Homo sapiens: one gene and its partner. The gene in region 2 interacts genetically with the main gene of each other region. Each region holds a gene or a part of one and is shown on either strand. Other genes may lie near its edges. The genes, in order: FOXP3 and SIVA1.

Evidence for each region.
Region 1: of SIVA1 (region 2) and FOXP3, changing one enhances a phenotype caused by changing the other (phenotypic enhancement), as found in Homo sapiens cells (one study listed by BioGRID).

Annotation. Positions count from the first base shown.
Region 1 is NC_000023.11:49,253,482-49,264,634, forward strand, and holds part of FOXP3 (forkhead box protein P3), read right to left. Parts: intron 5,047-11,153; 5' UTR 5,025-5,046; coding exon 4,815-5,024; intron 4,288-4,814; coding exon 4,183-4,287; intron 4,085-4,182; coding exon 3,946-4,084; intron 3,532-3,945; coding exon 3,444-3,531; intron 3,375-3,443; coding exon 3,270-3,374; intron 2,322-3,269; coding exon 2,234-2,321; intron 2,029-2,233; coding exon 1,948-2,028; intron 587-1,947; coding exon 436-586; intron 1-435. UniProt on the Homo sapiens protein: Transcriptional regulator which is crucial for the development and inhibitory function of regulatory T-cells (Treg).
Region 2 is NC_000014.9:104,747,270-104,759,068, reverse strand, and holds the start of SIVA1 (apoptosis regulatory protein Siva), read right to left. Parts: upstream 5,923-11,799; 5' UTR 5,868-5,922; coding exon 5,750-5,867; exon of another isoform or gene 4,598-5,749; intron 3,440-4,597; coding exon 3,245-3,439; intron 2,664-3,244; exon of another isoform or gene 2,466-2,663; coding exon 2,309-2,465; exon of another isoform or gene 1,649-2,308; intron 1-1,648. UniProt on the Homo sapiens protein: Induces CD27-mediated apoptosis. Inhibits BCL2L1 isoform Bcl-x(L) anti-apoptotic activity. Inhibits activation of NF-kappa-B and promotes T-cell receptor-mediated apoptosis.

The DNA of each region.
Region 1 (11,153 bases), on a different chromosome or scaffold from region 2:
GGTCTCTGATCCCTGCTAAGCCCACAGGCCAGGCCTGGTGGAGAGCAGTGGATAGGTGAGCTCGGGCGAATCCACCCCGATTTTCCTTGGTCAGGGGAGGAAAGGAGGTGCTCCTGGAATTACTTAGCAGGGTCCCTCCCTTCTGATGGCCGAATATAGTAGCTGGAGTCCAGAGTGGGTGAGGCATGGCCCCAATCCCCAAGGGAGTCAGGGCTAGGGGCCCGACACTCGAGACCATATGGGGGGCTTTCAGGCCACGGACATCCCGAAAGGAAGCTTTTGTGAGCGGATGCATTTTCCCAAAGGCTGAGTGGCGGCAGCTGCAGTGGTGGTGGTGGTGGGAAGGGGCAGCATGGAGCTCCTTTGCACCCTCCACCCAGAGCCTGTCAGGATTAGGAGCTTGGGGGCACCGTGTAGTGCAAGGACCATTCTTACCTGGGAATGTGCTGTTTCCATGGCTACCCCACAGGTGCCTCCGGACAGCAAACAGGCTGTCAGGGGCCTCCCGGGGGCCAGACCAGGCTGGGACGACAGGGCCTTGGCTGCCAGCAGCTACGATGCAGCAGGAGCCCTTGTCGGATGATGCCTGGGTGAGGGGGAGAGGCTGGTGACCCAGAGGCTTAAACTTCCCACTTTTTACTTTCTATTTTATGTTTTTTATTTTTTTTGATACTGAGTCTTGCTCTGTCGCCCAGGCTGGAGTGCAGTGGTGCAATCTCGGCTCACTGCAACCCCCACCTCCCAGATTCAAGCAAGTCTTCTGCCTCAGCCTCCCGAGTAGCTGGGACTACAGGTGCCCGTCACTACGCCCAGCTAATTTTTGTATTTTTGGTAGAGATGGGGTTTCACCATGTTAGCCAGGCTGGTCTCGAACTCCTGACCTCATGTGATCCACCCGCTTCAGCCTCCCAAAGTGCTGGGATTACAGGCATGAGCCACTGCGCCTGGCTCCACTTTATTTTTAAATCAGTGTTTTTCAAAGCAAGGACGCCCTCTTCTAAATTCCAGTCTGAGGTGGAATCCCACAAAACAGCATGAGCCGTATTTATTAGAGCACAGGTGCGGATGTCGTATGTGGCCACTGATGCTGGGACCATGAACTGGGGTTGAATAGGGCTCTTTACCACCCAACTGTGACCTTGGGAAAGTCACCTAAACCCCCCTGGCCTCAATATTCCTCATCTGTACATTCGCATCATGAGAAATAAATTACCACCAGCAAAGCGCTCAGAAACAGTGCCTGGCCTCCAGGGCTGGCTTCATGGGCGTGTGACCTATGTGGTTATGTGGCACCCTGTGCTTTGTTTAATGCTCTGTGGTCGCCATCTTGAAATCTGAACAAGGGGCCCTGCAGGTTACATAGCTGGTCCTGCTGGCACACAGCCTGCATCTGGCAAGTCTGGCTATTTGCATTTGCTTTAACAACTCAGGATCACAGTGTTTGGGGATCTTAGAGTCAGAGGGTTTTTTTTTTTTTTTTTTCTTGAGACGGAGTCTTGATCTGTCGCCTAGGCTGGAGTGCAGTGGTATGATCTCAGCTCACTGCAAACTCCGCCTCCCAGGTTCAAGCAATTCTCTGCCTCAGCCTCCCAAGTAGTTGGGACTACAGACACCTGCCACCACGCCTGGCTAATTTTTTGTACTTTTAGTAGACACAGGGTTTCACCATCTTGGCGAGGCTGGTCTTGAACTCCTGACCTCGTGATCCACCCGCCTCGGCCTCCCAAAGTGCTGGGATTACAGGCGTGAGCCACCACGCCCAGCCGGGGTCAGAGGGTTTGTAAGTAGAAGGGGACAGATTTCCAGGTCTGGGCATGTTTGGAGCTGGGGACAGGGGCCCCTAGCTCTCAGGACCTGAATGTGAGGTTAGGTTCCCTGCACCGTGCAGACCTCCTCCCTGCCCCCCAGCAGTCTGAGTCTGCCACCACCAGTCCTGGGGTCGCTCACCACAGATGAAGCCTTGGTCAGTGCCATTTTCCCAGCCAGGTGGGCCTGCATGGCACTCAGCTTCTCCTTCTCCAGCACCAGCTGTGAAATGGCACAAACATGAGGCCTCAGCCTGGCCCTTCTCTGCCACATCTTTGCCCAGGCTACGGTCTTCCCTGGGAGTGCCCGCTCCTCTTCCTTCCTTTATACCAGCCCTCGTCCCAGGTGAACTTGGTTTCTGGCACATGGTGGACAGAAGGTTTTGCGCACTATCCCTATCCCTTACCCTCCACCGCCCTGGCATTACCTGCTGCTCCAGAGACTGTACCATCTCTCTCTGGAGGAGACATTGTGCCCTGCCCTTCTCATCCAGAAGATGGTCCGCCTGGCAGTGCCTAAGTAGGGAGAAGATTCCATGCAGGTGACCACGACAGGCCTGGTCTGGCTCAATGCTCTGAATGGGGAGGGCCCAGACCCTCTGGGAGTTCTCTCCTCTGAGCCCCAGCTCCCCTCCCCTCTCTACCTCAGTCTCCCTCTCACACCCCTCGTTCCCTTAACACATGCCCCTCAGCACCTACTGCATGTCAGGCCTGAACTCACCACTTGAGCCTGGCCAGAGTGCTGGAGATAATGTTGGAAGTGTGGTGAGTTGAGAATGGGCCAGGGAGGTGAGAGTGGGCAAAGCATTCTGGGTGGAGGGACGGCCTGTGCAAAGGCCTGGCTGCAAGGAGGACAGGACATGTGGGGTTGCTGCTAAGGGTTGTGTGTAGTGTGGTGTGTATTTGTGTGTGTGTGTGTGTGAGAGAGAGAGAAAGAGAGAGAGAGAGAGAGAGAGAGAGAGAGAGAGAGAGAGAGAGAGAGAGAGAGACATATGGGGGGACTGAGGGGAGGCAGCAGCAGCCATCTAGAGGAGCTAGAACTTTGGGAACAGTGGAATAAGGCTGGCATGTTGGCATGAGGAGTAGCAGGGCAAAGCAGGAGTGCAGATTCTAGAGCCTGGCTACATGGGTTCAAATCCCAGCTCTGTCACTCAGGAACTGGGAGATTTTGATCAAGACACTTAACCTCTTTGGCCTCAGTCTCCTTGTCTGTAAAATGGGGGTAAATAACAGCACAAACGTTTCTTATTATACATACGAGAAAACTGAGGTCGAGAGAAGCTAAGTAATTTGTCCAAGGTCACACAGCCAGTCAGGGATGGAGCTGGGATTTGAACCCACAGTCTCAGAGTTTAGCTCTTGCATCTTACTACTTATTGGGATGAAGCCTGAGCTGAGATCTGCACCCTAGACCTCTCCCCACAAGCCAGGGCCGGTAGACTGGCACAGGCCTGGGCCACTCACTTGAGGAAGTCCTCTGGCTCTTCGAAGACCTTCTCACATCCGGGCCACTTGCAGACACCATTTGCCAGCAGTGGGTAGGAGCTCTGGGGCACAGCCGAAAGGGTGCTGGGGGGACAGAGGGTGTCAGGGGAGGGGATAGGAGGGCGAGGATCCTTCCCAGCCCTGTCCACTGACCTGTCCTTCCTGGGTGCACTGGGATTTGGGAAGGTGCAGAGCAGTGCCGGCTCCCTGGACACCCATTCCAGGCTGGCCACGTTGATCCCTGTGGGTGGGGACAGGGCACCTATGGAGGCTGTGGGCTGGGCTCTGGAGCTTGGCCCACAAGGCCTCTCATTTTGAGCTTCCCACCCTCCTGAGCCTCGAAAACCCTGACTCCCAGGGGGCTCTGCTGTCCCCAAAGTCCCAGGCTTCTGGCAGAGAAGCTTAAAGACGGCCATTCGCAGGTGCTGACATTTTGACTAGCTTTGTAAAGCTCTGTGGTTTTGTGATTTTGACATTCTGCATCTTTAAGGTTCTGCACCTGACGTTTTTTGGAGGGTGGAGTTTCCAAGCCTCTGAGACCTGACACCTTTGACCCCCAGAGTACTGCAATTCAGAATAGCCTACACTGCTCACAGCCAAGGATCTGGGGACTTGGGGGTTCTGTGAAGCCATGGGGTACGGGCTGAGGTGTTACCAGGTGGGAGGCCAGGCCGGGCCTTGAGGGAGAAGACCCCAGTGGCGGTGGTGGGTGGTGTGAGGCTGATCATGGCTGGGCTCTCCAGGGGGTGCACCTGCAGCACAGGGGTCCGGGCGTGGGCATCCACCGTTGAGAGCTGGGGGGCACATGTGGGCTGTGGTTCAGCCTGACTCGGGGCCCCTCCCCACAGTTCTCCCACCTGCTCCCTCCTCCCTGCCCATTCACCGTCCATACCTGGTGCATGAAATGTGGCCTGTCCTGGAGGAGTGCCTGTAAGTGGGGCAAGGGGCCCAGCCGTGCCCCGGAGGGTGCCACCATGACTAGGGGCAGTGTGGGCAGCTGGGCAGAAAGGCAGGTGGGTGAGAGGCCATCCTGATCCTCACTGTTCTGTGTCTAATTCAAATACTCTGCACTGCAAGCCCACATGGTAGATGCTATGATCATCCCCCTTTTACACGTATGGAAACTGAGGCTCATGGAGATCGAGTAACTTTTTAAAGATCAAACAGCTAATAAGTTGCAGAGCTGGCCTCAGCCCTGTCACCTCACCTACTTGGCCCCAGTCCTCTTCTCTTGTCACATGGGGATGGGGACACATAGCTATGCTCATGGGACTACAATACGGCCTCCTCCTCTCCTGAGACAGGGATTGGGAGGTCGGGGAGAGCCTCCAATCTCTGAGGCCTGGCAGGTGGGGATTTTCTTGGCCCTGCAACATCTGCATAAGTCACAGACTTGCCTGGGACCCAGAAACCACTTCCTGTGCCCCAGCCAGCCCCCCTCCCGCCCAGTGCCACAGTAAAGGTCGGCACCTGTAGGTCCAGGTACCCCACCCTGCCTGCCCCATCCTGGGCCCAGGGCCTCACCTGCAGCTGCGATGGTGGCATGGGGTTCAAGGAAGAAGAGGAGGCATGGGCCCCGCCTCGAAGATCTCGGCCCTGGAAGGTTCCCCCTGGGCCCCGGGCCCCCAGCAGGTCTGAGGCTTTGGGTGCAGCCCTCCAGCTGGGCGAGGCTCCTGGGGATGGGCCAAGGGCCAAGGAAGGGGCCGAGGGCTTGCCAGGCCTGGGGTTGGGCATCGGGTCCTTGTCCAAGGGCAGGCTGCGTAGACAATAGGGGAAAGGAGTCACACGTGTGCTAGGGCGGTATGAGATACTCGACCACCTGAGCCACGTGGACACTCCTCTGGTCAAAGCAGGCATTGGCTGGGACATGTCCCGAGGGGCCCCATAGTTGCACCCCAGCTCTAGACACACACACACACACACACACACACACACACCAAGAACACAGGTACATGTACATACCCACACATGCCCCACGTGCAGAGGTCCAGCACCTGGCTTGCCTGCCCACGCTAGCACAGCCCTGGTGTGGATGTGTCCTCTATGAGGGCAATGGTTGTTTCCCCCTCCACTTGAGAGCTGTTTCAAGCCTCAGGCCTCTAGCCCTCCCTGCACCCTGCACAGGCTGTGTTTGCTCATCTTGCCGGAGCTGGTCTCGGACTTTCTCCTCGGAGTCCTATTTTGCCCCAGTGACTAGGCATGGACTCAAAAGATTCATCTGGCTGCTGTGAGTGGGGCTAGTGAGGAGGCTATTGTAACAGTCCTGGCAAGTGATGATGCTGGCACAGAATGGGCTGGTGGCAGTGGAGAAGGCGAGAAGTGGGTAGATTCTGAGACTTAATCTGAAGCTGGATCAGGAGCAGTGCTAGCAGCTTGGATGTAGTGGGCAAGAGGGAGAGTCAAAGTGACATGGGTTTTAGCTTGAGCAGCTGGAAGGACCGAGCTGACATTACCTGAGATGGGGGACATGGCGGGGAGTTGGATTGGGTGCAAAAGTGCAGGTGTAGATAGACATGAAGAGTCTGGCATTAAATATGTGAGTGGAGGAGCTGAGGGGGCAGCTGAATACGGGGGTCTGGATCTCAGGGCAAGGAGGCGAGTCCAGGAGTGTGATCATGCACGGATCCAGCATGGCAAGTGACAGAGAGGAGGAGAGATGGGGTCTCTTGAGCTGGGGCCTGTAGAAGCTTCTCTACCCAGCCCCCATCAGAGTTCACCCCAATTTCTGGCCCTCAAGCCTGGCTCATGCTACACCCCCTGCCTCAAATGCCCACTCCTTCTCCTCTTTCCCTGTCCAAGCCACGCAAGACCTGCTCTTCTATTGTCCTCACCTTGAAAGCCCTCCACAATGGCTCCGGGCCCCCTGCTGAGCCCCAGAACCTTCCACTCCCTGAGGGAAGCACTGGCTTTTCAGGATCCTATAATCCTGGTCTGAGAGGAAGCCAGAGCTGGAAGGGACTGCCCAGCCAACCCCATTATACAGAAGGGGATGCTCAGATGCCGAGTTCCGTAGTCCCATAGTGACTTGAGAACTCCACTTCTTTCTTTAGGAAGTGTTTCCGTGTGCACATTTTATAAACTCTCTGGTGTGTGTGTGTGTGTGTCTCCATCTCCCCGTTCCACCTCACAGCACTGAGTTGGGCACACAGCTGCTGAGAGCAGCCCGGGGGAGTATAGAAGGGTTCTGGGGGAGCAGTTGCTCCTTCCTTTCTTTGCTGTCACCTCCTGGGGGTGGTTGTCAGAGCTGTGGTGCTGAGGGAGATGAGTGTGAGAATCCAGGTATTAAGTTCTTAGTCTCCTGGGGGCTTAGAACATTACTGCGTGAGAAACAGGAGTGTGGGTCTGTGGAGGCTCCGAACAAGGGCCTGGGAGAGCACTGGTGAGATGAGAAGGTGAGTGAATGAATGAAGCCAGAGATGGGGTGATGCTCCTTCAAGCCAAGAAATAACAAAGATTGCCAGCAACCACCAGAAGCTGGGGGAGAGGCCTGGAGCAGCTTCTCCCTTATGGCCCCCAGAAGGAACCAACCCTGGCAACACCTTGATCTTGGACTCTGGCCTCCAGAACTGTGAGATGATCAATTTCTGTTGCTGAAGCCACTCAGTTGTGGTACTTTGTTATAGCAGCCAGAACAAACTAATACCGATTTCGGTGCAAATGGATGTTTTCCACCACTCTGGCCTGGCCCATGTGGCTGGCCTGTGGTCACTTCTGAAGCTGCCTGGACACTTGGCCAGAGCTAAGAATTCTCCCCAAACACATGTGGGATGGCCTGACTCAGCAAAGCATAGATACATTCTCAGACAGGGACATGGAGATGATCTGTCTGGGGGTAGAGGACCTAGAGGGCCGGGCTGGGCAGCCGGCTTCCTGCACTGTCTGTTGGGACGTCCCTTTCTGACTGGGTTTCTCAGAAGCTGAATGGGGGATGTTTCTGGGACACAGATTATGTTTTCATATCGGGGTCTGCATCTGGGCCCTGTTGTCACAGCCCCCGACTTGCCCAGATTTTTCCGCCATTGACGTCATGGCGGCCGGATGCGCCGGGCTTCATCGACACCACGGAGGAAGAGAAGAGGGCAGATACCCCACCCCACAGGTTTCGTTCCGAGAACTGGCTGCCCTGTCCTGCAGCAGGCTTGGCCCAGGTGGGGTGACATGGGTGCTGGTGGATGTGGTAGGTGATGTCCATCTGGCCACTATGACAAGCCCCTAGCTCTGAAGACCTGGCCCTTCTTGGGTTGTGGAGAGGACCCAGGTTTGAAGCTCTGAGAGTGCCAGGCAGGCTCCACAGATACTGGGACCCCTGGGGTCTTCAAATAGTATAACACCAGGACCTCAGAATCATAGAACAGCATTTCTTAGATTTAAAGGATCCTAGAATCTCAAAACCACAGACTGTGGGGTCTACGGTCCCAAAGTCTCAGTATGTGTAGGCCAGTGTCCCTGGTGTCCAAACTCCTTGGAACCATCTGAAAGTCAGGCAGCTTGCTGCTTCATAGGGCCTCTTGCCTACCAGGCCTGGAAACAGAGCCAGCCTCCCTAGGGCCTCAGTCTCCCTGTCCACTCTGGAACAACGTTCCCAAATACATGGCCACTCCGCCAGAGATGGCAACAGGGGGAGGAGGAGGTTGAGGCTGGTGTGCCTTTGGTCTGGGCCTCATGGGGGGAGCTGGAAAAGCCTCAGCCTTCGCCAATACAGAGCCCATCATCAGACTCTCTAGAGGGGCCCCACAATCAAGGTTTTCGGGGACCAGCACCAGCTCTGGGGACACACAGCCTGACTGACTGACATGCCTCCATCATCACCACGCTCTGGCCAACTAGGCCTCCTGACCTATGGAGTCCGGGGCCTCACCTAGCCCAGCTCTTGTGAGGCTGGGCCCCACACTGTGATCGTGGATCGTCCAACCTGTGGGAAGTTGGGGTCCAACGTGTGAGAAGGCAGAAGGGGGAATGGTAGCCCAGGTTCCCCTTCCCCCTTCTGGGTGCTGAGGGGTAAACTGAGGCCTGCAGTTGGGGAGAGAGCCAGAACCAGGGTCCCACCTAGAGTCCTGAGATCTAGGCTTGGATTTCAACTCTGCCGCTGCATTTCGGTGAGGCCCTGAGATCTCTGGTCTTCAATTTGCCCTTCTACACTGAGCACGGAGAGGCGTGGAGTAGACAAGGGCCAGGGCCCTTCTACGCTGTCTGGTTAAGTCATTAGGTGTCTGCAGGGCTTCAAGTTGACAATTGCCCCTCTATCCAGGGGACTGGCTGAGAGATAGGGATACATAGAGACAAAGAGACACACACAAAGAGCGAGCAAGAGAGAACAAGAGATAGTGAGAGACATTGAGAGAAATGGACACATGCATGGAGAGCCAGAGTGCATGTGTGCGAGAGGAGGATTGCCTCAAATAAGAACATTTGCTGGTCTCTGGCTGGTTCAACTGATGCTGCCTGAAATAATCAAGAATAAAGAAGGGCAAGGTGCCAGGGACACCCATGGCTGGGTATTGAATTGTATTGCAAAGCAACAATCAGCAAAACAGTGTGGCCCTGGTATAAGAACAGATACTGGGGAAGAGAACAGAATAGAAAGCTTGGACATGGACCCACATATGGAGAGAACTGAATTTGTGATGAATGTGGCATTTCAAACTGGAGGACCATGGAGTATGGTTTAACAAATGTGTCTGAGATAATTAGGGAGAAGATAAAGTTATTGAGTGAATAGTCAGTCCATTATCCCAACAACCCCTCCCTGCCCAGTTTGAAATGTCACCATCATCATATACCCTAAAATGCCCAGATCCATTCAAGATATAAGTTTTAACACCTAATGCTGATCTTGGGTTTATTGTGTGTCAGGCCTTGTGCTAAGTATTTACTGTGGTTAAAAATTTTAATCTAAACAAAGACTCCTGAGGAAGGTACTATTATAACCATTGCAGTACATATGAGGAAATGGAGGTATGGAGAGGTTAAGTGCCTGGCTAAAAATCACACATAGGGCTTGGGGTGACGCTGGGTTTGTCCCAGACAGTCTGGCTCCAGTACCCACACTCTTAACCTCTATAGTAAATGGAAAAAATGAAGCCATAAAAGAGACTAGAAGCCAACATAGGTGAACATTTATCTCATTTTCAAGTAGGAAAGGACTTTCTAAGCACAAAACCAGAGACAGAAGCCACAGAAAAAAAGACTAACCTATTTGACTGTATAAAACCATCATAAGCATCACAAAAAACACCATAAACAAATAGAAAAAAAGCAAATGATGAATTGGGGAAAATATTTGCTATATATGTAATGGCTGATGAAAGGTTAATAACCATTCCAAATAAAGAGCTGTGGCAAATCAATAAGGGAAAAATAAGATGAACACCCTATTAGGAGTAAGGACATGACCAGACAACCAAAAAAAAAAAAAAAAAAGCATGAATGGCCAATGAATAGTAAAAGTAATCACAAGATGCAAATTTCAACAATGTGATAATGTGTTTTTCTTACCTGTCATGTTGGGAAATAATTAAAACATAATAATACTCACCTAGGGTTAGCTTAAGTAGAGGGAGCATAAAATAGGACAACCTTTTGGAAGGAGAATTAGCAGAGAGGGTCATAAACTTTAAAAATGCACGCCCCCTTTGCCCCAGCAACTCCCTTTTCAGGAATCCAAGGAAGCAGTCAGGGATGTTTATAGAAAAAAACGAGAAACAACCGGAATGTCCAACAATCGGCACTTGGTCAAATCAATCAAAGTTCATGCTGATGTGAGGACAGTCTTGTCCATCATGAAAGATCATGTGTTCAAACAATTTTTAGTAAGCTTCAAAAACACTACTGTTAATTGAATAAAGCAGGAACAAAACCAATATATAGCATGATTCTAATTTGGTTACAGAAATACTAATAGCTAACACTTCGTGAGCACTTACTTTGTGCCAAACGCTGTGCTAAGCCTGCAGAATCGAGCTCACCCCAGCCCTGAACAACCTGTTTGCTTCCTGAATATGGACTCTGGTCACACACATGCAGTCCTGGGGTAGGTCCACACAGCTAAACTACGGTTGACAATGGTGTGAAGTGCTCCCTGCCCCCCCGCCCCAAGGGTCTCCTCTAAAGCGATACAAGCAAAGTTCAGTTAAGTGCTCAGCTTGCCCCGGCACCTTGCAATCCTCCTGCTACTAGGGTGAACAGAACTGATGCTCACTCTCATAAAATGTAAAGGTCCTCGGCGACATTACTATTATTAAACGCCAGCTGTGTACAAAGCTCTAGGCTGGATGCTGGCTGGGAAGGCAGGTGGGGGAAGGCAAGAAAAGAGAGCGGGAGAGATGGAGGAAAGGAGATCGATGGAGTGTGGTCAAGATGGAGGAGACAGAGATAGGGGAGATGGTCAGAGGCCAGGAGAGATGCGGGGAAAGAGAGTCTGAGTGTAGCGACAGACAGATGGCGGGAGAAAGAGAGGCAGAGAAACATGTAAAAGAGCAAGACAGGGTGAGCAGAGAGACAGAGAAGGATGAGAGGCATCAAGAGCTAAGAGACAAAGAGATGAGAGAGATGCAGTTGAAATTTTCAGTTGCACCTGGACAGCATTTCAAGTTGTTCAAAGCTCTGAAATCCATAAAGACTGGCAGCTGACATATTTTAAAAATCCTATCCATCTACGTATCAATTGATGAATTCATTTATTTTTGCCCCTGCCCATGCATTAAGTACTTCACCTTTAAGTCTTCTGCCATTTATTCTATTATTTTTTTAAAGACCTTACCTGGCTGGAATCACGGTAGCTGGGTACATCCCACTGTACCAGAGGGCCCCTGACCCCCCCGCCGTGCCTACCTCCCTGCCATCTCCTCCAATGGGGCCCACATC
Region 2 (11,799 bases):
GCCAGCACCTTCCTCTCAGACTTCTGGTCTCCAAAGCCACGTGGCAGTACCTCTTTGCTGTCTATGCCACTGGGTCTGCGAACTCAGTTACAGCAGCCCTAGCTGATTCCCACTGCCGATCAATCCACATGGGGCCCAACCTGGGTTTCCAGTAGGATAGAAGCTCTCCAAAGAAACCTCCAGATGACCTGCCAGAATTCACCGAACCACAATGGTTTACACTGAAGCACATCAAACAGTGCTTTTCTGATATATCAAGACTAAGGGTAGGGCCGGGCATGGTGGCTCACGCGTATGGTGTGGCTTACCTCAGCACTTTGGGAGGCTGAGGCCGGAGGATCACCTGAGGTCAGGAGTTCGAGACCAGCCTGGCCAACATGGTGAAACTCTGTCTCTACTAAGAATACAAAAATTAGCTGGGCGTGCTAGCGCACGCCTGTAACTCCAGCTACTTGGGAGGCTGAGACAGGAAAATTGCTTGAACACAGGAGGTGGAAGTTGCAGTGAGCCAAGATCGCACCACTGCACTCCAGCCTGGGTGACAGAGCGAGACTCCGTCTCAAAAAAAAAAAAAAAAGAAAGCTCTAAAGGTAAAGGCTAGGGAACCCGGCAAAACACAGGGAGAAAGTGATTAAGAGAGATGTTGCGAGGAAACGGGACTGGCAATGGCTACCCCAAACACGACAGGGCCGTGGAGTCAACAAGGCAGCCAGAACTGCTTGCCACTTGGTTTGCAGAGTTTGCCAGTAGTATTGTGGGTGAGCCGCGAAGACAGCCCCTCACCGCCACCGGCAGCCAGCTGGAGAGCCCTGCAGAGGACGGGCCAGGCGTGGGCCAGTGCAGGCCATCAGCAGGACGCCAAAGGCTGCTGGGCTGCATCTGTGTTAAACCAGAGCCGTGTGGACAGATCCCTGTTTTCCCCCACTCCTGCGACGCCTGGTCCTGAAGTAGGAAATGGCAGGGGAGGGGGTAGGAGACTGCGGGTGCCACCAGCTGGGCTGCCTGGCCTGGGAATGCCACTTCTGGCTTGTGACCTGGAACAAGTCATTTATTTGTGAAAGAGGGCAGAGCCCACCTCCTGTGCTGTAGCTGCGATAAAAGAGTGTGTCCACAGTGGGGACAGTGGCCCACTCAGCTCAACGTGAACTCTGTGGGTATGGGAGGAAGCAGCAGCAGAAAGTAGGTAGAGGCCAGGAGGAAATGGGCGCAAGGGAGTCCCTCAAGGATGGTGTGCAGGGCAGGAGTGGGAGGCCAGCCACGCAGCGCTCTGGGACCCACCTCTCCGCTGAACCTGCCCATGGCTATGTTCACTTCTGCTTTGGTGAGAGGGCCACCAGACAATGAGAAAACCCTGCCCTTTTCAGTTTACTTCTAGGAAAGAAGATGAACTCAGCGGGTGAAAAGCAAAGACAGAGTATCCCACATTCATAGCTAGCCCTGCAGATGATTCCCAACCTGGATGGGGTGCGTTACCCCACTCCTGCCCATGCTGAAGCCATGGGAGCCGATCACTGGCACGCGGCGCTTCTCCCTGGTGCTGCCCCCCCTGCCCAGGGCTCTCCGTCTCCAATGAGTCTGGGCCTCTGCCCCGACTGAAGAAAGGCTCGAGAGAAAGGACTCGAGATGTAACATGTGGTTTCTATTTTAGATGGACAATTTCAGACATTGTTTGGACTAAGCTTGCTTTGGGTCTATGGAGCCAGTTCCACATGTGTCTGGATGAAGTCATCTTTCTCACGGGGCAGGGCAAACAGGCTCCACACTGTCCACTCCCATCCACCAGGTGAGTAGCCCCTAGGGTGAGAACGCCCCTCCCCACCTTAGGAGTAAGGACGGGATCCAGCCAGCTGCAGCAAACCCACCCACAAATGGGAGACTACACAAACACTCCACTTCCTGCCTGAGAGGGTCTACAACCAAACGGCACGCATGACTGTGGTGAAGCTGCGGTGTGCACCTGTGTCACCAACCAGGGGCTCCTCGGACGGGGGGAGGGGGGGCTCAAAGACCAGAGGAGGAGGAGGTGGGGGTGCTCAAAGATCAGAACAGGAAGTGGCTGAAGACAGGGACTAGAGCCGGATACAGAGCAGGTCATCTGTGAGGTTCAGCTTTCCCTTAGAGAGGATTACTAACCACTAAAGTTGGGCCAAGCATCTATTGCCACCATGTCCCGTTAGGCAATGCCAGATGGCACTGCATCAGGGGCCACACGTGTGTGTTCTGGGCCCACATGGGTGACCCACCCGTCCCCCATCACGGCTTGCTGGGGCTATGGGATCTCAGCAGCTCCAGGGACTGAAGTACTTACTCCACGAGGCCACACAGGGTACAGGCCACGGAGCCGCAGCCCCAGCAGGTGCGCACACACTGCCCGCACAGGGCTCGCTCACACTGACCGCAGACCGCCTTCCCATCCACGGCTCGCACGCATGAGGAACAGGCAATGGACGCTACCCCAGATGGGTCTGTGAGGAAGAAACGCCAAGCCGTCAGGCTGCAAGGAGACTGGAGTTTCCGGGACTGCCGGGCTACCTGCCTCCATGCATACCTGAGGGCAGAGGGCTCTGACCTGCCTACCCCATCCCCACCTACACTGGATCCTTCTGACAACCCGTGAGCCTGGTACAGTGCACAGGACCCCCGTTTTACTACAGAGATCCAAGGTGAGATATGCCTGTAGTTGACTCCAAGTTCAGTGCTCTTTCCCTTACCAGGTCCCTCTGCTACCTGGAGGCTAGTGCTGGAAGGACCATTCTTCCCCTGTTGCTTGTCAGAACTCCATGTGTCCCATCTGGGTCTCAGTGTGGCCCACTGCCTTACTGGTTAACAAAGAGGTGCCTGGGCTCCTCCTAGACACACCAACCAGACTTGAGGTAGAGTCGGGGATTGCATTTCTAACCAGCAACACAGGTGATGCTCTGAGACCCCACACTGCATAGGGATGGGACTGGCATGTTTCCAGCCTTGTGGGACTATCTGAGGGGGCTGCAGGCGGAAAGCAGACGGGATACCCGGGGAGTCTCTGCTGCTTTTTTGGCCCAGTACTTAGAAGCTGTTTAACAACTTCCAGTCTTGAATGTGAGACCTCCTGATAACAGGAGCCTTCTGAGCCAGAAGGCCAAGCTCTGGGTCAGAGTCCTGCTTACCCAGGGAGGAAAAGCCTGACCTTGCAAATCAAGAAAAATGCTCGTGCCACCACCTGCCCTCAGTGCCACAGCCACAAAGGGCTGCTGGTGCCACTCACCAGCTTCGGAGGCCTGCCCAAGGCTCCTGATCAGGCGGCCGTCTGGTCCAATCAGCATCTGCCCACGTGCAGCCCTCGGGGCCCCTGTAGGGCCAGGCTTTGGGGACTCTGGCAGGTGAACGACGGCACAGCCTTCATCCCACACGTGGTCCAGGTAGGCCTGGGCCCCGAGGAACAGGAGTCGCTTGGTCTTCTCTGGGGGAAGATAAATCATTCTCACGTCCTTCACTGTGTACCAACGAAGCCCCTGCATGGCCATTGAGTCTTTCTAGCCTCACATGAACCCCATCGTCCTCCTGTGTGCCCTCTGTCTCCCAGTAACCCCAGCCTGTGTTGTGCCCTGGCGAGCTGGGTCCTGCTCTGCCTCTATGCTGAGAATGCTTGTGCGTCCTTTCCTTACCTGGCTTAGCTGTCATCTCCTCCAGGAAGGCTCTGGCCCTGCAGCCCCACCTGTGTCTGATGCAAGGGTTCCCTCTCCTATCACTCGGCTCATTTTCTGCAATTCACGGCTGGCCTCGCCTCACTAAGCTTGTCCCCTTTCTCCCTTTTCTGCTTCCCCAGCACTCCCCACCTGGAAACCAGGCTCTGTGGAATGCACAGAGGGAGCTCTGCACTGTGGAGCACTAATTCACAAAACTCGTCCCCTGCCAAGGAAGCAGCCAGAGGCTTGGAGCTGGGCCTACAGCCTCTGGCCAGAGCACACCCCCTTCACCTGCTACAGAGTTGCTGGCAAGACAAGCATCCCAGAACCTTCCAGACCTCTTGTTCTAGAACACCCACCCATCCCTGGGAGCAGTGGTTTTCCATCAGGCCACAGTTCAGTCACCTGGGGAGCTTTGAAAAATCAGATGCCCAGGGCCAGACCCAGAAATGCTTTGTTTTTTGTTTTGCACCTCACCATAACACAGTAAAGGCAGAGATCCCAGAAACTCTATGTGGCTCTACATGAAGTGGGCAGCAATAATAGTGACAGGGTAACTCACATGGAGTAGCTGATGCCAGCCCACAACACCCTGCACCTTCCTCCTGGCCCCCCACACCTTCCCCCATCTATAAGGGGAAAGGAATGGGACAGACACGTGGTGAGGCTAATCCTTGTCCTCAAGGCCTTGTGGACAATTCGAGGTTAAGAGATCAGGGTAACAGCTGTGGCCTGGAATTTGGAAACTGTCACACAGTTCAAAGTAGGTGTCCTGCATTTACCATGGAAGGCCCACTGCACCCAGCAGACCTCCCTGACCTGACCCGGTGAGTGGCACACACCTGCCAACGCCCAGGTCAGGACACTCGGGAAGAATAAAGGGCCATACTGAGCCAGGCCCCATTTCCATCTTCCTCTTCTTGCCTGCACAGTGTTTGAATTTTTCAACTGTCCTGAGAGGGCACACGATTGCGGTCCTGCCACAGTTCCCACGGCATCATTCCCCTTACCTCCCCATGGCCCAGAATAGCACTCGCTTTCACAGCCCTAGCACACTGGAGACACCGCACAGAGGAACCTCGGGAGGCAGAGTCTTTCCCTCATTCCCAAGGCACAAGCGGCACCAGGTAAATCACACACCCCGGGTCATCCTCTAACTGCTCTACAGGTGCAGACTTTGTGTCCCAATCACTAGGCAAGGTAAGCTCCACTTTTTACCTGCCCCAGGGTATTAATCACCCCAGTCAGAGTGATGATCAATAAGATCAACACGCCTGAAATCCACAGGAGAAAGCCAGAGAAGGCCTGGGAGCTCACTGCCCTCACATCCCACCCAGAACTGGACACTGCAGCCACACGGAGTCCTATTTCGCTCTCCTGCTGCCTGGCTTCTGCCTCGCCCTCTTCCTTCCCTTCCTCTGCCTGGCTAACTCCTACTCGCCCCCACAGGATTCCGCTCAGACTGTTCTTCCAAGAAGCCTTCCGTGCCATCCCTGCAGGTGCGCCTGCACAAACCTGTGCCTGCCCCGACCACCTGTGGCGACTCCTCCTGCTGGTCTCCCCAACTAGGCTGGGGAGCTCCCGGGAGACGGGGCACATCTGTCTTGCCTGCCTTTGGTCTCCCGAGAAAGCCGCCGTGCCTGGCAGGGCCGCGCGCTCCATGAATACCTCTTGGGACAGGAGGGGCACTCTTCGGGTTGACTCCATGCAGGACGCCCCGCTCCCCAACCTCTCCCAGGACATCCTGCACGGGACAGTCCTGAGAAAGCACCAGGCGGGTGCCGCTCACTGCAGGGCGGCGACTAACCGGGATCGTGGAAGAGGGCGCGGGGGCTAGGGGCAGGGACCCTTTTCTTTCAGGCTGTTGGACAGGGTGGGCGAACGCTGGGGTCCTCACATCCCCCTCACTGACCCCAGCCCTGGGCGTGGCCAGCTTGTGTCCCCGCGGCCTCCCAGCTTCCGGGAACGCGGGGCCAGAAAGCAGGGCCCTCCAGCCCCCCGCTCAGGCCTCAGAGGGGACGCTGAGGCCCGGCCCGTTCCAGGCCCCGACGCAGCGGACCCTCGGCAGCCCGCCCGACACTCACCGAAGACCTCCTGCGAGTAGCGCTCGGCGCACACGCCGCGGCTCAACTCCCTCTGGCTCACGCGGACCTTGAGCTGTAGCGGGGCCACGTCCGCGAAGGGGCAGCTCCGCTTGGGCATGGCCGCGGGGCCGGGAGCTACGCAGCTCCCCGGCCGCCAGCCCCTTACCAACGACGCCGTGACGTCACAGCTGCGCGCCCATCCGCGGGCGAGAGCGGGTTTGAGGAGAGGGAGCGACGCGGCGCGTCATAGGCTGCGGGCGAAGTGGGAGGCGGGACTCCTGCGCGGAGCGGCGCGGGATAGGCCGAGGGAGAGATCGGGGGTGGGACTCGTGCGTCGGTGTACTGGACTCGACGCCGCGGGAAAGGCCAGGGGCCAGGTTGAGGATCAGGGTGGGCGGGTCCGTGGGAGAGATTTGTGCGCGCGCCGCTCAGGATAGGCGGGAGGAGAGACTAGGGGCGGGGTTCCTATGCGGCGCGAAGCGACGAAGGGTGGGAGCCAGGTCGCGGCATTCGGCTGCGCGGGAAGAGCCAGGGGGCGGGGGCGAGGCCGAGGGTCAGGACGGTGCAACGAGGGCGGAGCTTGTGCATCGGGGGCGGGCCTCGTTTGAGGATCGGCGTGGGATAGGCCAGGGCGACGTCGGGGCGGGTCTAGTTTGAGGAGCGGCGCGGGATAGGCCAGGGCAAAGTCTGGGGCGGCTGGGTCGGTGGCGGGATTCCTGTCAGCTTTTGTTTGGTTCCTAAACGGTAGACACTGGTTATAGTTCCTCATTTACTTCTCCGAAGTTAAGAGGCAGCCCGCTTCTTCCTAGCTCTTTTTTCCCCTTTAGAGACAGGGTCTCGCTCTGTCACCCAGACTGAGTGCAGTGGCAGTCTCGGCTCACTGTAGCTTGCGCCTCCCGGGCTCAGGCGATCCTCCCTTCTCGGCCTCCCCGGTAGCTGGGACCGCAGGCGCGCGCCTCCGCGCCCCGCTTTTTGGTTTTGGGTAGGAACGGGGGTTTTTCTGTGTTGCCTCAGCTGGCTTAGCTCCTCACTGTGGCGGTCTCCGCCTTCCAGAAGTAAAGGCGTGTGGGGGCTGCGCTCTGAGGGCCGCGTGCGGCTGCCGAGCGCCCCCGGGCGGGGGTATGCGCCGCTGTGTGGAAAATGTTCTTGCACAGCGGGTTCGTCTGACTTGGTGTCCCCATGCCGCGAGGTGCACCCGCGTCGTCCCTTCTCCGGGGTTCTGCTCACCAGAGGCGGCTCTCCCCTGCCCCGGCGGGTACAGAACCGACCCGTCCTGTGGCGTGGGCTTCGCCCTGTGAGAGATGACAGCGTGCTGGCAGCCCTCGCTCGCTCTCGGCGCCCACTCTGGCCGCGCTCGAGGGGCCCTTCAGCCCGCCGCTGCACTGTGGGAGCCCCTCTCTGGGCTGGCCGCGGCCGGAGCCGGCTCCCTCAGCTTGCAGGGAGGTGTGGAGGGAGAGGTGCGGGCGGGAACCCGGGCTGCACGTGGCGCTTGCGGGTCAGCGTGAGTTCCGGGTGGGCGTGGGCTCGGCGGGCCCCGCAATCGGAGCCACCGGCCCCAGGCAGTGAGGAGCTTAGCACCCGGGCCAGCAGCTGCGGAGGATGCGCCGGGTCCCCCACCAGTGCCGGCCCGCCGGCGCTGCGCTCGAATTCTCACCGGGCCTCAGCTGCCTCCCCGCGAGGCAGGGCTCAGGACCTGCAGCCCGCCATGCCTGAGTCTCCCCCCTGCCGTGGGCTCTTGCGCGGCCCCCTGCTCCGCGGCACCCGGTCCCATCGACCGCCCAAGGGCTGAGGAGTGCGGGCGCACGGCGCGGGACTGGCGGGCAGCTCCACCTGCAGCCCCGGTGTGGGATCCACTAGGTGAAGCCAGCTGGGCTCCTGAGTCTAGCGGCGACTTGGAGAACCTTTATGTCAAGCTAAGGGATTGTAAATACACCAATCAGCACTGTGTTTAGCTCAAGGTTTGTAAACTCACCAATCGGTACCCTGTGTCTAGCTCAAGGTTTGTAGATGCACCCATGGGCACTCTGTATCCAGCTAATCTGGTGGGGATTTGGAGAACCTTTATGTCTAGCTGTGGGATTGTGGACGCACCAGTCAGCACTCTGTGTTTAGCTCAAGGTTTGTAAATGTACCAATCAGCACTCTGTATCTAGCTAATCTGGTGGGGACTTGGAGAACCTTTATGTCTAGCTAAGGGACTGTAAATACACCAATCAGCACTCTGTGTCTAGCTCAAGGTTTGTAAAGACACCAATCAGCACCCTGTATCTAGCTCAAGGTTTGTAAATGCACCAATCAGTGCTCTGTGGGGACTTGGAGAACTTCTGTGTCTAGCTCAGGGATTGTAAACACACCAATCAGCGCCCTGTCAAGACGGACCAATCAGCTTTCTGTAAAACAGACCAGCCCTCTGTAAAATGGACCAATCAGCAGGATATGGGTGGGGCCAGATAAGGGAATAAAAGCAGGCCGCCCGAGCAGGCAGTGGGAACGTGTTGGTGTTCTGCCACATGTTTGGGGCTTTGCTCTTTCACTCTTTGGGTCCACACTTTTTATGAGCTGTAACACTCACTGGGAAGGTGTGTAGCTTCACTTCTGAGGCCAGCAAAGCCACAAACCCACCGGGAGGAATGAACAGCTCCAGACACACTGCCTTAAGAGCTGTAACACTCCTTGTGAAGGTCTGCAGCTCCACTCCTGAAGCCAGCAAGACCGTGAGTCTGCCAGAAGGAACAAACTCCAAACACGTCCAAACATCAGAAGGAACAAACTGCAGACATAACAATTTTAAGAACTGTAACAGTCAACTGTGAGGACCTAGTGCTTCATTCTTAAAGTCAGTGAGATCAAGAACCCACCAATTCTGGACACACCTGGACTATGTTCTCACGACTCCATCGGTGTTGCCTCCGGTGTGAAGAGGTGATGCCTGGAGTCCCGCAAACCCCTCCCACGTGACTCCCGTGTTGCAGCTGCCCACGCCCCCTCAGAGGCAGTGTATGCTTTCCTAGCCATGGGTGGCTGAAACCTTACCAGTCTCCAGCTTAGATGTCCTTTCTCCTCCTGCCGTGCAGGGTTCCCTGTGGTGGGGATGGGATCAAGCATTCTTGGCTCTTCCTTGCCACTTTGCTGGCATAATGGAGAATTTTTTCTGCCTTAGGGAAATGACTTGAAAGTTACTCAGTTGGAGTCACGTGTGACTAAACACAGATTTGGTTTATCCCAGAAATAGATGAAGTTCTCAGAGAGGAGGATTGTTTTCAATCTTATGGATCGTGGGGATTTCTAAAGATTTCCCTGTGTTCAGACTTGCAACTCTCCTAGGGTCTCATCACCATCGTGGACAGATACAGAACATCGGGCAGCTTATGGAGTGGGGCTGTCCCCCAGGCCACATGCCGGTTCCTCAGAGGTTGCTGGGTAGGATTCTGCTGCTTTAACAAACTTGCCTGGCTAACACCACTGGCTCACCCTTGAATGCCTTCCTGGGTGAAGCCATGAACCCTCCAGGGTTAAGCCCCAATTTTGGGGCTCACCTGCCCTGCATCAGATTGATGGTTAACTTGTAAAGAAACTGGCAGCTTTCCAGAGTGCTAGGAAAAAGGAAAATTATCATTAAACAAAATCATTGTCATAGTTTTCCTCTAATTCGTCTTGAGGTCTCTCCTGGAGAGTGGCTGTAAACTTTGGCCCTTCCCTGATGGGGCTCTGGGGGCGGTGGGCATGGGGTTACAGTGTGTGCTCTCGTGGGATGCCTCCTGACCCTGGCTGATGGCCTCAGGCCTGTGTATCCAGCTGTGCTGGCATTCCTCTCACCAGCAGCTTGCTTCTAGGCTTTGGCAGGCAGCCTGTGGCTTTTGTCTGAGCAGTGATCAGTTCATTCCTATCATGATGGTCTCTCTGGGAGAGTCCTGACCAGGAGAGTGAGGTTTGGGTGCAAGGGTCAGGTGAGAGCTGGAGGAGGCAGCACAGCAGAACACATGAAACTGCAGAGCAGGTGTGTGACTCAACCGGGCGGGAGCGAGGAGGCAGCGTTCCTCACAGGCCAGTGGGGAGGGGGAGCCACGGGGAACAGGCAGGCCCAGCCAGATGGTGGGGAGCGAGCCAGCGGCCTGTGCACCAAATCTGTATTCAGGTCCAGGGTGTTGTTACTCAAGTGCATTTCCTGTGGGGTGTGATTTCGAGCCGGCAGGCATCAGCTTCATGGCATCTTGCTGTGACTGGGTGGTGGTCACTGTGGCACGTCTGCACAGTCCGTGAGGGGTGTGGGGGCCAGGGGCTGAGTCCAGTAGGTTGTATCCAGGTGTCCCATAGGGAGCTGGTCACCAGCTGGCAGGTGTATAAAGCAGAGATCTGGGTGGACCACCCTGGGCAACTGGGAGGAGGTGAGGAGCTAGAAACTGTCAAGAATGACTGAGCCCTGCTTCTGTACCAGAAAGTCCCACTTTTATTCAGAATGGATGCCATTCTGAATAAATATTGTCATAAAATGATAAGAATTCACTACAATTATCACTAATTTGTCTTTTACCCATGTATTCAACAGAGACCACTCTGACCCCATCTACACTGGGGCTGTGTTATTGATGAAAAGTGGAGAGAGCCCCTTACTATAACCACTCAGACCCTCCAAACATCTGCTACTGAGAAGAAGGGGGTGGAGACCCGAATGATTGACCTGCCTGTCTGCACTAACCCACCGCTCAGACGCCAGAGCCTCTTGTCTCTGGTTCACGTGGAAGTGAGTGAGTTGGTGCTGGGGGAGAAGTATTTCCCCTCTGCGTTGGTGTCTTTTTACCCTGTGAAACGCCTGCCTTCCATCCCGAGAGGAAAGAAAACGATGACAACTTGTGTTCTGGTGGAAGATTTAGCAGCTACTACAAAACAGAGGTTTGAAAACCTATTTTGCAGCTCTCAAATTTCAATTTAGATGACTTGACTTTGAGGGCCCAGTGTAGATGTGAGGGCTGAGTAGAGAAAGCCCGCAGCCCCCTCTCCCCAGGAGCTTACCCCTGCCTCGGGGCTCCCTTTTTGTCTCTCTTGCTGTGTTATGAAAGGAGAGCATCTGGGAATACTCAAAGGCTGGCTTCTGCCTGTGTGTCCCACCCCATCTCAAGGTGGCTAGTGCTGCTGAGGGACTCCGGCCTGAGGAAGGAAGCGCCCGTGGCCTGGGGCAGAGCCGTGCAGTTGCATGGCTTTCCTGCCGCTCAAGTCACTGAGGGCTGTTCTTGGTACTGTCTAGAAAAGTTGCTTGCATCCCTGGAGTCACAGGAATCTCATAACCCAGCCTATGCCCCCAGGCCCCTGCCGTGTCAGTAGAGCCTGCTGAACTTCCTGGGCTAGCGAGACCAGCTGACAGCCACAGTGCTCAAAAGTCAGGGTCTAACCCCGCCAGACTGGCGTCTCTGTAGGATTCCCTGTCTTTGAAAGGATACTGGAAGGGCAGTTGTTTTTCTAAACTTACTCCGAACTCTGAGCCACTGCACCTGGCCTTAATATCATTTTAAAAACTAAACACGCTGGCGCGGTGCCTCCCACCTGTAATCCCAGCACTTCGGGAGGCCAAGGTGGGTGAATCATGAGGTCAGGCGTTTGAGACCAGCCTGGGCAGCATGGTGAAACCCCATCCCTATTAAAAATACAAAAATTAGCTGGGCGTCGTGGCGGGCCCCTGTAATACCAGCTACTCAGGAGGCCGAGGCAGGAGAATCGCTTGAACCTGGGAGGCAGAGGTTATGGTGAGCAGAGATCGCGCCACTGCACTCCAGCCTGGGTGATAGAGCAAGACTCTGTCTCAAAACAAACCATATTTAATTGACTTGGTCTCTTATATGGGCTTGTTCTATTTAATTTTCTGAGTAAACACAAGGCTTGGCTTTGTTACCCAAAAAACATGGGCAGCTCTTAGGAAGCTACATCCTCCAGACTCCTGTCACAGTGAATTGTTGTCTTTCAGTGTTTAAAAGCAATAAAGACAAAGTCAAATCAAACATGTAACAACTGCTCCCATTCAGTGGCCATTGGAGATGTTTATTACACTGCTTCGGCTG